Linked DNA regions of Homo sapiens. Each later gene encodes a partner of the first gene's protein in a complex. Each region holds a gene or a part of one and is shown in the gene's direction. Other genes may lie near its edges.

Region 1 (4,102 bases):
TTGCAGTGAGCCGAGATTGTGCCACTGCACTCCAGCCTGGGCGACAGAGCGAGACTCTGTCTCAAAAAATAAAAAAAAAAAAACCACGCCGTTATCCTATCTATGAAAATTAGCGATTTCCTAATATTATGTATTATTCAGTGAGTGTCACAACAGAGTGATACTCTGTCTCAAAAAATAAAAACCACACCCAGTTATGTCTGTGAAAATTAATGATTTCCTAATATTATGTATTATCCAGTGAGTGTTACGACAGAGCGATACTCTGTCCTAAAAAATAAAAAATAAATAAAATAAAAACCACACCCGGTTGGCTGGGCATGGTGGCTCATGCCTGTAATCCCAGTACTTTGGGAGGCCAAGGCGGGCGGATCACAAGCTCAAGAGATCAAGACCATCTTGGCCAACATGGTGAAACCCCATCTCTACTGAAAACAGAAAAATTAACTGGGCGTGGTGCTGCGTGCCTGTAGTCCCAGCTACTCGGGAGGCTGAGGCAGGAGAATCGCTTGAACCTGGGAGGTGTAGGTTTCAGTGAGCCGAGATCGTACCACTGCACTGCAGCCTGGCAAGAGAGCAAGACTCCATCTCAAAAAAAAAAAAGACACCCAGTTATCCTATCTGTTAGAATTAACTATTTCCTAATATGTGATATCCAGTGAGGGTTTACATTTTCCCAGTTGTCCCCAAACTGTTTAATAGCTTTTTAAATATTAAATCAGAAAGCCAGGCATAGTGGCTCACACCTGTAATCCCAGCACTCTGGGAGGCCGAGGCAGGCGGATCACCTGAGGTCGGGAGCTGGAGACCAGCCTGACCAACATGGAGCAACCCCGTTTCTACTAAAAACACAAAATTTGCTGAGCGTGGTGGCGCATGCAGGAAAATCACCTGAACCCGGGAGGCAGCGGTTGCGGTGAGCCAAGATTGCGCCATTACACTCCAGCCTGGGCAACGAGCGAAACTCCATCTCAAAAAAAAAAAAAAAATTAGCTGAGCGTGGTGGCACCTGCCTGTAATCCCAACTATTTGGCATGCTGAGGCAGGAGAATCTCTTGAACCTGGGAGGCGGAAGTTGGGTGAGCCGAGATCACGCCGTTGCACTCCAGCCTGGGCAACAGAGTGAGACTCTTATCTAAAAAAAAAAAAAGGAAGAGTCCCGGGTGCGGTGGCTCACACCTGTAATCCCAGCACTTTGGGAGGCAGAAGTGGGTGGATCACCTAAGGTCGGGAGTTCGAGACCAGGCTGATCAACATGGTGAAACCCATCTCTGCCAAAAATACAAAATTAGGGCGTGGTGGTGCATGCCTGTAATGCTAGCTACTTGGGAGGCTGAGGCACTAAAATCACTTGAACCCAGGAGGTGGAGGTTGCAATGAGCCAAGGTTGTGCCATTGCACTTCATCCTGAGCAACAAGAGCGAAACTCCATCTCAAGTAAATTAATTAAATTCTTCCTCTTTTCTGAGCATCGCTATAGGCTTTAATTATAGGTTTTAATGTATTGGTTGTCTTATTATTAGTTAGGGCAATGATTATTGTGAGTGCTCAAGTTGTTCCAAATATGTCTGGTGGGAGCCTAGAGGGTTTAAAAGGCTGAGAGAAAATAAAGGTATGTTAGCATGCCAATGGAAATGATGCAACGGATAAATTTAAAAATGATAATATAGGAGAAAGATGGGAGAATTCTTGAAATGATGTCCTTGAGAAGGTGAAAGGAAGTGGGCTCCGGGGCATAAATCAAGGCTTGGCTCTAAGAGGAGCTGGCGATAGGTGGGAAGACAGAGGCTATTGTAGCAATGCTCGGGGTGGAGCGGCATTTATCTTCAGACCACTTCAGTCTTCTCAGCTCATTAAGAAGAAAAGCCAGTAGAGGAGAGGAGGTGTAGGAGGTTTTAGGAATCCACTCCTGCCCACTTGATCTTATCCCTTTAGCAGGGTCCAACCCTGATTGATCTTTATTCCCCACGGTATCTAGCAGAGTGCTTTTACTCTACGTTGTTGATCATGTGAAACTGAGTGAACACCTACATTTGTATAAAGCCGGTTTCTGAACATCAATCCACTAAGCAGCCTCACACATTTAACTGGCCAAGGTAAAAGAAAACACTTGGAGATTCTGATTCGAGAGATGTGAATGGAGTGGGCTTTTCAGGGAGCTTCATTTTTACAAATTCCATAGGGGGTTCTGATGAGCATCCAGGTTTGGGAACTACTGATTAAAAGAAAGTTTGTTTATTCAACTACTATATGTTGAGCACCAGCCATTTATAAGGTACCGTGAGTACAGCTGTCTTGATCCTAGAGTCAGGAGAATTGACTGATTTTTTTTGTTGTTGTTTGTTTGAGACAGTCTCACTCTGTCACCCAGGCTGCAGTGCAGTGGCATTATCTTGGCTCACTGCAACCCCTTCCTCCCAGGTTCAAGTGATTCTCCTGCCTCAGCCTCCCGAGTAGCTGGGATTACAGGCATGCACCACCATGCCTGGCTAATAATTGACTGATTTTTTTTTTTTTTTTTTTTGAGACGGAGTCTCACTCTGCCACCCAGGCTGGAGTGCAGTGGCAACCTCCGCCTCCTGGGTTCAAATGATTCTTCTGCCTCAGCCTCCCAAGTAGCTGGGACTACAGGCACGAGCCACCATGTCCGGATAATTTTTGTATTTTTAGTAGAGATGGGGTGTCACCATATTGGCCAGGCTGGTCTTGAACTCCTAGACCTCGTGATCCGCCCACCTCGGCCTCCCAAAGTGCTGGGATTACAGGCGTGAGCCACCGCACCCGGCCTAATTGATTTTTATCTATTTCAGCTGAGACCTAGGGAACCCCTTGCAGAATTATGCCATAAACACCATAGCTCCCTGAGCTATGTTGTATTTTGAATATTAGAATATTAAGTCTGGGCGTGGTGGCTCACGCCTGTAATCTCAGCTCTTTGGGAGGCGAGACAGGCGAATCACGAGGTCAGGAGATCGAGACCATCCTGGCTAACACGGTGAAACCCCATCTCTACTAAAAAAAATACAAAAAAATTAGCCGGGTGTGGTGACCGGCGCCTGTAGTCCCAGCTACTAGGGAGGCTGAGGCAGGAGAATGGCGTGAACCCAGGAGGCGGAGCTTGCAGTGAGCCCAGATCACGCCACACGCCACTGCACTCCAACCTGGGCAACAGAGTGAGACACCGTTTCCAAAAAAAAGAATATTATAGAGTCAGTGAAACAGAATTATAAAAGATATGGAGGGCCAGGCGCAGTGGCTCATGCCTGTAATCCCAGCACTTTGGGAGGCCGAGGCGGGCGGACCACCTGAGGTCCAGAGTTTGAAACCAGCCTGACCAACATGGAGAAACCCTGTCTCTACTAAAAATACAAAATTAGCCAGGCATGGTGGCGCATGCCTGTAATCCCAGCTACTCTGGAGGCTGAGGCAGGAGAATGGTTTGAACCCGGGAGGCGGAGGTTGCTGTGAGCTGAGATCGCACCATTGCACTCCAGCCTGGGCAACAAGAGCAAAACTCCATCTCAAAAAAAAAAAAAAAAAAAAAGGTATTTGAGTTCTTTCCTCAATCCATATACATCTAAAATAAAGTTATAGCATATAGGCAACTTTACATTCTAGTCTTCCTTGAAACAGTGTCATAAGTATTTTTCACTGTTAGCATGTGTTTGCTCATTGGTTTAGCAAACATTTGTTGCTGCTGTGAGCTAATCCTGCTGGGTCTGAGGATAAAAGGGTGAAAGACCATTCTGGTCCTCCTGGAGCTCACTAGTAGGAGAGACATAAGTTGACAGTGACAGCTCAGTATGATAGGGCAAGAAGAGAAGGGGATGAGGCTGGGTGTGGTGGCTCATCCCTGTAATCCTAGCACTTTGGGAGGCCGAGGCAGATTACTTGAGGCCAGCAGTTCAAGAAAGCCTGTGCAACACAGAGACCCCGTGTCTATTAAAAAAAAAAAAAAAGGGATGAGAGAACTCAGAGTAGGTACTGCTCCTAGATGGGGCCAAGGGGCCTTCCCAGAAGTGATACCAAGCTAAGACTTGGAGGGAATGCCAGCCCAAAAAGGGGAAAGGAGAAGCTGTTCCATGTGAGGAAAAAACAGCAC
Region 2 (4,102 bases), on another chromosome or scaffold:
GTGCCTGTAATCCCAGTTACTTGGGAGGCTGAGGCAGCAGAATTGCTTGTGCCCGGGAGGCAGAGGCTGCAGTGAGCTGAGATCTTGCCACTCCACTCCAGCCCGGGCGACAGAGCGAGACTGTCTCAAAAAAAAAAAAAAAAAGAAAGAAAGAAAATGCTCCTTGCTACTTCTGTTCTGGGAGCCAATCTTTTGGCTCCTTGATGGTCCTACTGCCAGTGGTCACTTGCTCTGTACTAGGCCTCTGTGAGCTGGGTCCCTTTTGATTTTGGGTGTGTGTGTGTGTGTGTGTGTGTGCACGCGCGCGCGTGCTTTGAACAGCTAAGAACTTGGAGCTGCCTCCGTTTCTGTCAGTGGTTGTTAATTCTGGCCTGACAAGGCTACTTTTTTCTTCCTGCTGTCTGTATTTAGGATTACAGGTGGAGTAAAACTTCGGTGGGGATTTAGAAAATTAGGGCAGTTGAGAAATTAGGGCAGGTGGGGAAGCTTGCTCAAGCCCCAGATACTAATTTCCCTGAGACCAAATCACCCCCAGTGTGGCAGGCTCAAGGTTTTTTGTTTGACCTTAGGTGAAGTTCTTTCTGGGGCTCACCAAGAGGGTAACCACATACGTTTTTTCCAGAATGTGGTAGTGTCTCAGACTTCTACATGCTTTCTTTAGAAGCTGAAAAAGAAGAATGTAGTCATCTAGGCAATACCACTCTGAACCTGCCTGATCTCAGAAGCCAAGTGAGTCAGGCCAGGTTAGTACTTGGATGGGAGACCACCTGGAAATACCAGGTGCTGGAGGCTTAAAACGAAGAACAGAATAGCTTATTCATGGTCCGTCAATCCTCAGTACCAGTCTAGTGGGAATCTTCAGTGAATTAACCTTTTTCTAGGGCTGCAGAGTTTAGTTGGTTTGCCCATAGCACTATCGAAGTTACAGGCTATATGCATTATCAGGTAGCTCCCACATCTGGGCTGCCACCTTTCAGAAGTTGATAGTCCAGGAGGCACATGGACCAGTTCAGATTCATTACAAACACAGGGAAAGTGCTCCAGTATTTTTAATCCATCTTTCCTTGCCTCGCGTAAGTGTAAAAGGCAGTGGAGTGGGGGTATTGTGATCCTATTGATTGGATTTCAGGTCCTGCTTTAGTCTGTGACCTTGAAAAGAATCATTAGCTTCTTTGGTTCTGTCTTAAAAGGAATGAAAATTATTGCTCACTATATCCCTTCTAACATGGGGAAGGTGATGAGGAATATGCTGGCAATGAATTTATAATGGAAAAAGTCTAACATTTCTCTTCCATACTTCTTTCAGAATCGGCTACAGTCTCAAAGGGCAATGCTTCTGCAGGGCACTGAAAGCCTGAACCGGGCCACCCAAAGTATTGAACGTTCTCATCGGATTGCCACAGAGACTGACCAGATTGGCTCAGAAATCATAGAAGAGCTGGGGGAACAACGAGACCAGTTAGAACGTACCAAGAGTAGAGTAAGTCTGGGCAGACAGGGAAAGGGGCAAGTATGGGGTAATTAGGGGGCCACTGCACCTGGAAACCGTACTAAGGCCAAAAGCTACAGCAGTTCTGTATTCAGGGAATAGTCTTTTTTAAGTTCTTATGCTTTTCTCAATTTTTATTTATTAATTTTTTTTTTTTTTTTGAGATAGAGTCTCACTGTGTCACCCAGGCTGGAGTGCAGTGGCGTGATCTCCACTTGCTGCAACCTCCGCATCCTGGGTTCAAGCGATTCTCTTGCCTCAGCCTCCTGAGTAGCTGGGATTACAGGCATGCGCCACCATGCCTAGCTAATGTTTGTATTTTTAGTAGAGATGGGGTTTCGCCATGTTGGCCAGGCTGGTCTCGAACTCCTAACTTCAGGTGATCCACCTGCTCCGGCCTCCCAAAGTGCTAGGATTATAGGCGTGAGCCACTGTGCCCGGCCGCTTTGCTCAATTTTTAGTTTGCTTGGCTGAGAGATGTCCCTTAGAAGCAATTTTACCCCTAAGATTTAGACATCACTGGAAATTTTTGCTTCAGTGAGGGGAAAAAAAGATGGAAGGACCTGATTTCTACACTTACAAGATTACAGAAATTAATAAGGATAAAGTGGCTGCATTCTCTCTTTGGCAAGAGAAATAATATGTCAAAAGGCACTTAAGGATTCAAAGCTTCCAATCTGAGATTTTAATTTCTCACACATCTAATAGGGTATTCTGCTATTCTTACGAAAACATCATCTGCTTATATCCTGTTATTTAGAGCCAAGGCTGTTTTCCAGATTTCATAAAATAGTACCACAGTTTATAGATTTATAAATTATGCTTCAATCCTGGACTATAACCCTTTACTGTTATGTAAGTAAAAGTAAAAAAAAAAAAGTAATAGGGAAAAAAATGTCTAAGGATTATCCAGTAAGGTAAGCTGGATCATTGTGGAAAGAAAACAAATATTTAAATCAAATGATGACTATATCAGGGATCTCTAGTCTGCTGTCACTCTGAGAGCCTCAGAAAAATAACTCATTTATTTTTTCCTTTCCATAAATGAGTTAACCTACATAGGAATTTTTTAGTTTTTTAGAGACAGGGTCTTGCTCTGTCACCCAGGCTGGAGTGCAGCAGTGCAATTTTAACTTACTGTAGCTTCAAACTCCTGGGCTCAAGTGATCCTCATGTGTAGCTGCGATACAGGCATGTGCTACTGTGCCTGGCTAATTGTTTTAATTTTTTGTAAAAACGGGGTCTCATTATGTTGCCAAAGTTGCTCTCGAACTCCTGGGCTCAAGCAATCATTCCACCTTGGCCTCCCAAAGCGCTAGGATTACAGGCATGAGCCACTGTGCCCAGCTGGAATTTTTTTTTTTTTTTTTTTTTTTTTGAGATGGAGTCTTGCTCTGTCGCCCAGGCTGGAGTGCAGTGGCGCAATCTCGGCTCGCTGCAAGCTCCGCCTCCCAGGTTCATGCCATTCTCCTGCCTCGGCCTCCCGAGTAGCTGGGACTACAGGCGTCTGCCACCACACCCGGCTAATTTTTCGTATTTTTAGTAGAGACGGGGTTTCACCATTTTAGCAAGGATGGTCTCGATCTCTTAACCTCATGATCTGCCCGCCTCAGCCTCCCAAAGTGCTAGAATTATAAGCGTGAGCCACTGCGCCCGGGCAAAATTTTTTAATTGGTACAATTTACCAATGGAATGCTGTATTCTTAATAGCAGAAGGCAAATCAATTTGAAAAACATACTGTGGCCAAGATTTGGACAGGAAAATACTAGCTCAGTGTGAAGATTTGAGTAGATTTTCTTAATAGCTTCAGTTCTCCATTAAGTCAGAGTAATGCCCTGCCCTCTTCAGTGAAAATTCACAATAAAGTACTACATTCAAGGCAAGCTATGGAGAATGTAACTTGCTTACAGATTGTGTGGGTTTTGGTTTTTGAACATACCAGGTAGATTGGTTGAATTTAAAAGCCAAGGAGGCCGGGCTTACACCTGTAATTTTAGCACTTTGGGAGGCTGAGGTGGGAGGATGGCTTGAGCCTAGGAGTTTGAAACCAGCCTGGGCAACATAGCGAGACCTCATCTCTAGAGCGAGACCTCATCTCTATAGCGAGACCTCATCTCTACTAAAAATCAAAAAAAGGAGCAGGGTGTGGTGGCGTGCACCTGTGATCCCAGCTACTTGGGGACATGTGGGGTTATTGCTTGAGCCTGGGAGGTCGAGGCTGCAGTGAGCTGCGATTGCAGCACTGCACTCCAGCCTGAGTGACGGAGTGAGACCCTGTTTCAAATAAATAAAAGCCAAGGAACGAGCTGAGAGGTCAGCTTACCAAGGCCACTGGGGAATGGGAACAGATGGCAAGTAGCCATCTGCTGGAGGTGAAATATCCTCCAGCTGTCCAGATTAGTAGCAAGCAGTTGAAAGTTCCATGGAGGTTAATTCTTTTCACAGTTCAATGTAACTGTCTCTTAAGAGGGTAAAGAAAAAAACCAGATCCCAAAAGCAGTAACAGACCAGCCTACAAAAACAAATGCCAACTCAAGAGGCTGTCCTGGAATTTGGCTGATGAAATTCAAATCTTAAGTTGCTCTACAGTCACTGGCTGGCCAGTCTGCTGG
Region 3 (4,527 bases), on another chromosome or scaffold:
ATTTTTAAAGTTTTAATTTCTAATATGGCAAATGCTGATAATTATAATCCCCCTTAAACAAGAACTCTTTGGAGTCCTCAGTAATTTTTGAGTGTGTAAAGAGGTCCTAAACCACAACTTTAAAAACTATTGCTAACAGGTGGGGGGTGCTTTACCCTGTTCATGGTCAGATAAAGTTGCCTTTCCTCCCCATCCTCCAGTCATGTCCAGAAGCCCAAAGTTACCTCCAAGCAGATAACTCTGACCCTGCTTCTCCTCTACCACAGCTTGAGGGTCCTCTGCCTTAGACAGCTGGATTTATCTAAAAGAGAAGAGCAGTCATAGATCTGTAGATTTTATACTGGAAGTAATTGTCATGGCCTTGAATGGTTCCTTGCTCAGGTTTCTCTTTCTAATATCACATTTTAGGCTCCTGAGCTTAGCTTCTTACTTATTATTTGGTCTGGGAGTTTAGGTTGATTTGTGCAGCTGAATTGTTAAATTCAGAATATATTTACTGATTACTTATTACATGCAGAGCACAGCTCTAAATGCAATATCAATCTTTGCGAAAAGGTGTTGTCACCTAACGAGATGTACTTCAGCTTGAAAAATCCTTATATTACAGCTGTGACAAATAGTCAACTTTACATCAAGTTGGTAAACTTTACATTTGTGGCATGTGTATGTGTGAGTATGTGTGTGTATGTGTGAATATGATGTCAGAAGTTCAACCTATTCATTAATAAACAGAATTTGCTGTAATCTGCCCCCCAACCCTGGCAATATTTATAGTTCCCTACAAGGCAAAATGCTTTGCTCACTTTTGGAGCAAAGGGCATGCAATTCATCAATGCATCCTTTTCCAAGCTTGCAAATAATGAAATCAGTCACTTAAAGATCTCAAAAAGTTGTAATTTAAAGCAAAATAAAGCCAGGCATAGGGGCTTATGCCTGTAATCCCAGCACTTTGGGAAGCTGAGGCAGGAGGATTGCTTGAGGCCAAGAGTTTGAAGCCAGCCTGGTCAACATAGTGACACCCTATCTCTACAAAAATAAAAAATAAAAAATAAATAAAATAAAGTGACTAATGCAGTGAACCTAATGTTTAAAATCTATTTTTTGTGATATAATAATGTGAACAAGTAGTGACTTTTATAATATAATTTAAAATTATAATCTAGAATTAAAAAGCAAACACATCTGTAATAGCACCAGTATTTTTGCAGTGTTACTTACATCATCTGCTTTTCATTGTTTTGGTCATCGTAATTATTGTGTCATTATCCACTGAACAGTTCGTAGCAGTGTTCTTGCTCATAAGTGATATAGATGAAAGCCTTCTACTCAGGCTTTTAAAATATATTCTTATATTAATCAAAAATAAAATTCATGTGCAAAACCTAAAAATATAATTAATGAAACCATACTTCAGGAGAATTATGGTTATTTGTGATTTTTTTATGACTTGTTAATGACACATCAGTATGAGTTGCTCATTTAGCCTTGATTCTGCCGAGTTACCAGTGAAGAGCAACAACCCCACTGCTTTCTCTCCCACTGAAGGAAACGCTAGAGTTCAAGTGGGTGTGAGTTATACCAAAAACGACAATGTTAACTACACTTCTGTCTTGGAAAATACTTGTTTAGTGTGTTCCATTACTACATAACTGCTACTCTAATGGAATCAGAAGTATTTCTTAATAAGGCTCTACTTTCCTATATATATTATTTAGAATAATATGATTGATTCAAGAAAATAAAATTGCTCTCCTCGTCCCTCCAGGTGTTCATCTATATCATTGTTTCACCTCTCTGTGGTGGATTTACATGGCCAAGCTGTGTGAAGAAATAGGAAAGAAGAAGTTACCATTAACCAAGGATATGAGAGAACAAGGAGTTAAAAGCAATCCATGTGACTCAAGCCTTTCACATACTGACAGATGGTATCTGCCAGTCTCTTCAACCCTCTTCTCACTTTTTAAAATCTTGTTCCATGCCTCCAGGTTTATCTTTGTCTTATCTACCAGTTTATTCCTGTGAACTTCAGATTGAACCATTCATTGCAGCAGTAGCCTTAAAAAGGCTTTTGTTTATTTCTTTGGTTTGTTAACTAGTGTCATCTATTTAGAGAAACATTTTTGTTTTTAATTGCTCAAAGCTGTCGCCGCTAGTCTTATGAGCTATCTACTAAAACTATGGAGAAACTTTGTATGTGCACACAAAAGTATTCAAGAGACAGTATTGCTAACATCTCATCTTAATGTCTTTTGTTATTGAGAAGTTTTAGGTGCTTCAAAACAATATAAATGGATAATAGTTGTTATTTGGGGAATTGTAATGATGTTGGTGCTGCTTCCTTCTAAGAGCTCAGACAAGTAAAGTATGAAACATTCTTATTTCAGTTAGATGGGGAACATTTTGCTAGCCCATTAGAAGCACACAGAATTATCCTTGTCCTCCTAATATTGACTTTCAGGAATAAAGTTCAGTGTGCTGATCATTCACAATACAGTGGATAGCTTGATATCTTCTGTTTTCCCATTGCAGTTGATTTGAGAAGATGAAGGTTTAAATATTGTTGAAAGTTGCAGTTTTTTAAATGTGTTCCTTTTTCTTCTGTGAATATTTAGGGCAATCGTGTCGCTAATAGAATATGTAGTAGAGGGGGTGGGGAGGTAAATTCCTCTGACTTGCCAAAGAAAAAGAAGGGAACCACAGTGGATATGCTAGCATTTTAGCTGTGCAAAGGGAGGTAGTGTGGGAAAAGTGTTTCCATTCTGGGAAAAGCCCAAACCGAATACGGTCAGCAGTCAACTCCAGGGTTTGGGCTTGATTCCTGTTGAATAATAGTTTTGAGCATTCTTTGTGGTTAAATAAATTCTTAAATCTGCCTAGTTTTGATGAATTCTTTTGTGAAACTTGAAAGAGAATAGACAGTATGACATATAGAATTAATACAAAACAGTTTAACAACCATTTAACTGCAGTGTAAGAAAATTGGACTGTAATCATATCGCTACTGGCATCTGTTATCTAGTATGCATTTCTGGTGTGTATCTGAAAGGAAGACATTTTCTACCCTAGATCCAATTGCATTTATTTATCAATAAGTGCCATTAAATTGAAATTATATTACATTTTACACTTTCTCAATGAATGAACAAATTAGTCTGTAGAATCTAGCCACCTGTTTAGCCTAGTCATGTGCCTTGAACATATATGTGTCCCATAATCTGGCTCATGGTACCTGTTCTTCTATCCAAACCTTTCAATTCATGCTACCTGATTCATTTATTTGACATAGATCTTAGGCCCACTTGAACTCTTTTCTTGTTTATCTAGCATAGCACAAACGTTTTTCCAGTCTTCTTTATCAACACTAATGCCTCTTAATTGCATCAGTATTTCCTATTGGAAAATACATCTGTTCCAGAAAAACATTTGGCATTCCTGAATAATTTCCAAATGTTTTTAATCCAAAGAAAAAGGTTTAAAGCTTATTTCCCTTTCTTATACACACCTGAATAAAATTGATGTGCATGTTTTAGGGATCAATTACCTAACTGTTCCTTGGTCTATTTATGTATAAGAATGCTTTTTAAAGCACATGTCTCATTTTAAATGACGCACAAACTGAAGATGTTAATAAAATTTAAGAGTAATACAATGATTTGCTTGTTTTAGAAGTTCTTTCTGGAACCTAATTTCTTCTGATGACATTTGCCATTGTTTACAGAACAAAAGTATTTTACTTATGCGGAAAATATATTAAGAAGTGTTACCTGGAGACTTCCAGTAAAGATCTGTAGCATAGTCTCAGGTGTGTAGAATTTCTTCAAAAGACACAAATGAACTTAAAAAATATATAGCCCATGCTGAAACCAATGAAAGATTCTGAGATGATCACACAGCCTTCACAACTATCGTCCTGAGTGCATGATTTAGACAGAACTGAAAAAGAACCCCAGGGATTTTCATCCAGTTTAGCACAATTCTGAAAAATCTTTCTATCTAAAGTTAAATGACTGGTTCTGAAAGAGACTCAAGCGGAAGGCATAATGGTGGGAGGGAATAATTCATTATAGCAAACAGGGTACCTAAACAGAAATAAAAGAAAAACAGGCACAAATCAAATATACAAATAGATAGGTCACAACAAAATAATCAGTCACTTGGGACCTCTGAACGTAAGGTGGCTAAAGTCAGGTATAGAATATATTTTTGTACAGGCTGCAATAACTTAAAAACAGCCTATTTAAGTTCTCCCTAGGTTTTATCCAGATTTCAACTGAAATGTGCATTCTCTAACAGACACTTAGAGAAAAATAAAAGATGGTTATTTATTTGGTTATGAATAAAGAAAGAAGTGACACCAGCTATTTCTCTTTACTTCAAACCCTTGGCAAAAAAAAAAACAGTGTTACAATCCAAAAGTTTCCTTAATAGTGAATGTAGGTGCCTTTAGATAATGGTTTCTTCTTGCTTGACTCTTGGTATCTATCTTTTCTGGCCTCAAGATAGACAAAGATACTGGGTTGCTTCCCA
Region 4 (4,102 bases), on another chromosome or scaffold:
TTTTTTTTTTGAGAGACGGTGTCTCGCTCTATTGCCCAGGCTGGAGTGCAGTGGCCTGATCTTGGCTCACTGTGACCTCTGCCTCCCGAGTTCAAGCAATTCTTCTGCCTCAGCCTCCTGAGTAGCTGGGATTACAGGCGCCCACCATCACGCCTGGCTAATTTTTGTATTTTTACTAGAGACAGAGTTTCGCTGTGTTGGCCAGGCTGGTCTCTAACACTGGCCTCATGTGATTCACCCACCTTGGCTTCCCAAAGTGCTGGGATTACAGGTGTGAGCAACCACGCCCAGCCAATTGCATCAGTTACACACTGGTGGAATGTTCTCTCTCAGTCAGCAATAGTCAAGTGGGGGCGAGTGGGGAAGGGATAAATAGGGCCTATCTGAGCAGGTGGAGCTGAACATAGTTTACAAAAGCATATTTAACATTATACTGTATTGTATATTTTTAATCAAAAAATATGATTGCTTTTGTAATACAGGGTCATTTTTTATCTAAGGATAATTGGTACCAGAAAAAATCTACAGAAAGAAAACCTGCTGAAGGTGGACCAAAATTTAGAAGGTTTTGAGTGGGATGCTGTCTAAAAATAAAATAAAATAAAATGCAAGAAAAACCGTAAATTAAACAAAATTGAGGTCAAAAATTAAAACCAAAATCGAGGTTGTAATTGCAGGTGTGTGCTAATCCTTGATTATATAGTTACAGTTATATGCCATTTCTTGTTATTGAATTGGGAGAGGTTTAACTTTTCCAATGAAATTGTCAGACAACATGAAACAGTATCTTTCCCTTCACATTTGACTTTTGTACCAATCATAAAGAGGGTTTTTCCAAACATATTTGAGGTATTCAGATCATTCTCTCTCTTTTTTAAAAATACATTTTTGGCCCAGTGCGGCGGCTCACGCCTGGAATCCCAGCGCTTTGGGAGGCCGAGGTGGGCAGATCATGAGGTCAGGAGTTCGAGACCAGCTTGACCAACATGGTGAAACCCCTCTCTACTAAAAATACAAAAATTAGCCGGGTGTGGTGGCACACACCTGTAATCCCAGCTACTCGGGAGGCTGAGGCAGGAGAATCGCTTGAGCCCGGGAGGCAGAGGTTGCAGTGAGCCGAGATTGCTGCACTCCAGCCTGGGTGACAGAGTGAGACTCCACCTTAAAAACAAAAAAAAAATATTTTTATTTTTAAAAAATTAAAAAATTTTGGAAATGAGGTCCTTCTCTGTTGCCCAGTCTGGAGTACAGTCATAGCTTACTGCAGCCTCAGGAACTCCTGGGCTCAAGCGATCCTCTCACCTCAGCTTCCCAAGTAGTTGGGACTACAGCACACTCCACCGTGCCTGGCTAAATCATTCTCTTTTGAAACCCCTGCTAAGTTGTCATTCCCATGGGTTTTCTCTTTGTCTCTTGTTCACTGGTCTGCCTCTGCCAGATCTGTATTTGTGGCTTTGCTTCTGATTTGAGCAATTTGCCAGCATCATCTTCCCTGCAAGCAGCTGTGTATGTAACAGTCAGCTGTCAGGAAGACACCGACTGGCAAAAACACAGGCACAGGGAGGCCAGTGTAAGCAGGGAGGGCTGTATGAGTGGTGGGCAGTGATCCAGGGCTTGGCTATTTCACGAATACTTTATGTTATGATGGCTTTTGCTTTCCTGAGCCACCAAGCCTACTCAGATTATAAACACTGAGTACAGAGGAGCCCTTGTATAAAGTATGGTAAGTTATGCCAGACACACTCAGCTTAGCATGGGTTTAAAGCTGGGAATGGCCATCCACAATGTAGCATTACAGGCCAGAGCAGAGAAAGCTGTCAATTTATACTTTGGGGCTATGTGCAGTAGCTCACACCTATAATCCCAGCACTTCGGGGGCCGAGGCAGGAGGACTGCTTGAGCCCAGGAGTTTAAGACCATCCTGGGCAACAAAGCAAAACCTCATCTATTAAAAAAAAAAAAAATTAGCTGGGGGCATGCTGATGTGTGCCTGTAGTCTCAACTACTTGGGAGGCCAAGGCAGGAGGGCAGTGGGCTCGGGAGGTCAAGGCTGCAGTGAGCCGTGATCATGTGACTGCACCTGGCCTAGGAGACAGAACGAGACCCTGCCTCTTTTCTTTTGTTTTTTTTTTTTTTTGAGACAGAGTCTCACTCTGTCACCCAGGCTGGAGTGCAGTGGCGCAATCTCGGCTCACTGCAAGCTCCACCTCCCGGGTTCACGCCATTCTCCTGCCTCAGCCTCTCCGAGTAGCTGGGACTACAGGCACCCGCCACCACGCCTGGCTCATTTTTTATATTTTTAGTAGAGATGGGGTTTCTCCGTGTTAGCCAGGACGGTCTCGATCACCTGACCCTCATGATCCGCCGGTCTCAGCCTCCCAAAGTGCTGGGATTACAGGCGTGAGGCACCGTGCCCAGCCGACCCTGTCTCAAAAAAAAAACAAAAAAAACAAAAAAAACCAACTTTGGCAGTTGAAGCAGTAGTTGTGCTTGCTTGGGTCATCATGCTTGTCACACCATACAGTGAGTATCTGTTTGCTTGTCTTTTTCCCAAATGAATGTGAGGTGGTTGAGGAGAAGTACTGCCCCTCATTCATCTCTGGATCCCAGGGTCCTGCAGAACCCCCTTGCAAACTGTTTCAAAATGTAATGGATTCTTTAAAGTGGCAGGTGTGAAATGGCGGAGCAGGTGCTCATTAAGACCTTCAGCATAAAGGTGCTATTAGAAAACCACCCTGTCAGTTCATGTACTCTGTGTTTTGATTTTTGAGTATTTCCAGAGATTAGCACAATTGGTTTGAGCTGGCTACATAAGAGTTCTGAAGTATGAGTTTGATTCTTAGAGAGACGCAGTTAGCTTTTTTATAGTCTATCAACAACTGTCAACATTTCTTTTTTTTTTTGAGACGGAGTCTTACTCTCATTGCCCAGGCTGGAGTGCAGTGGCGTGATCTTGGCTCACTGCAACCTCTGCCTCCTAGATTCAAGTGATTTTCCTGCCTCAGACTCCCGAGTAGCTGGGATTACAGGCACTCGCCATCATGTCCAGCTAATTTTTGTATTTTTAGTAGAGACAGGGTTTTAACATGTTGGCCAGGCTGGTCTCGAACTCCTGACCTCAAGTGACCCACCCGCCTCGGCCTCTCAAAGTGTTGGGATTACAGATGTGAGCCACCACGCCCGGTCAACTGTCACATTTCTAACTCCAGGAAGCTGTTCACCAACTTTCCGTTATCACCCACAAGTTAGCGCAGGTGAAGACTGTAGATCCGCCGTGTCAGTCAGGGCTCTGCTAATCCATCATGTTTGTGTCATTCATGATTGGTCTGTAGTATGGAAAGAACAACAAACCTTGAAGAAATATTTTGAAAGATTGGCTTTTTGTGTGTGTGTGTGTGTTTTTTTTTTTTTTTCTTGAGAGAAGGTCTTACTCTGTCACCCAGGCTGGAGTATAGTGGTACTATCACGGCTCACTGCAACCTCCACTTCCCAGGCTCAGGTGATCTTCGCTCCTCCGCCTCCTGGGTAGCTGGAACCACAGGCATGCGCCACCACCATGCCTGGCTAATTTTTTGTATTTTTAGTAGAGACGGGGTTTCTCCATGTTGCCCAGGCTGGTCTTGAACTCCTGGGCTCAAGTGATCCCCCCACCTCGGCCTCCTAAAGTGCTATGATTACAGGTGTGAACCACTGTGCCTGGCCACGATTTTTTATTTCCTACAAAGTATATTAACTCAGCAGCTGAAGGGCCAGAAATGGTTGTTCAAGATACTGGAGATGAGTAAGTCATGGTTCTCCGGGGATGGTACCAATTAATACACAGGCCATAGCAGTACAGCCTTAGAGGCAACTGGACTGAAGAGGGGCCTTGTGTGACCAGCTGGGAAGTTTGGATGCCTCCCTGAAGTCCAGCCATTGTGGAGCTGTGCACAGAGGAGTGCCATGTTCACAGCCCCTTGGGCTGACGGGGGCAGAGTGACAGCAACAGAGCCTCCCCGTGGCGACCTCCAGGGTCCGGTCAAGGGGTATCAGGACCTGAGCAAGAACAGTTGCTGGGGAACCAGGAGGCGGAAGTGGCAGGAGGTGGGATGGGCTCTGAAGG

What was found.
Region 2: STX5 (region 1) and VTI1B share a complex: the UniProt entries of both Homo sapiens proteins name them as parts of the SNARE complex.
Region 3: STX5 (region 1) and VAMP7 share a complex: the UniProt entries of both Homo sapiens proteins name them as parts of the SNARE complex.
Region 4: STX5 (region 1) and BNIP1 share a complex: the UniProt entries of both Homo sapiens proteins name them as parts of the SNARE complex.

The regions. Positions count from the first base shown.
Region 1 is NC_000011.10:62,811,516-62,815,617, reverse strand, and holds part of STX5 (syntaxin-5), read left to right. Parts: intron 1-4,102. UniProt on the Homo sapiens protein: Mediates endoplasmic reticulum to Golgi transport.
Region 2 is NC_000014.9:67,653,794-67,657,895, reverse strand, and holds part of VTI1B (vesicle transport through interaction with t-SNAREs homolog 1B), read left to right. Parts: intron 1-1,306; coding exon 1,307-1,480; intron 1,481-4,102. UniProt on the Homo sapiens protein: V-SNARE that mediates vesicle transport pathways through interactions with t-SNAREs on the target membrane. These interactions are proposed to mediate aspects of the specificity of vesicle trafficking and to promote fusion of the lipid bilayers.
Region 3 is NC_000023.11:155,940,118-155,944,644, forward strand, and holds the end of VAMP7 (vesicle-associated membrane protein 7), read left to right. Parts: intron 1-1,765; coding exon 1,766-1,834; coding exon of another isoform or gene 1,835-2,022; 3' UTR 2,023-3,652; downstream 3,653-4,527. UniProt on the Homo sapiens protein: Involved in the targeting and/or fusion of transport vesicles to their target membrane during transport of proteins from the early endosome to the lysosome. Required for heterotypic fusion of late endosomes with lysosomes and homotypic lysosomal fusion.
Region 4 is NC_000005.10:173,154,529-173,158,630, forward strand, and holds part of BNIP1 (vesicle transport protein SEC20), read left to right. Parts: intron 1-4,102. UniProt on the Homo sapiens protein: As part of a SNARE complex may be involved in endoplasmic reticulum membranes fusion and be required for the maintenance of endoplasmic reticulum organization. Also plays a role in apoptosis.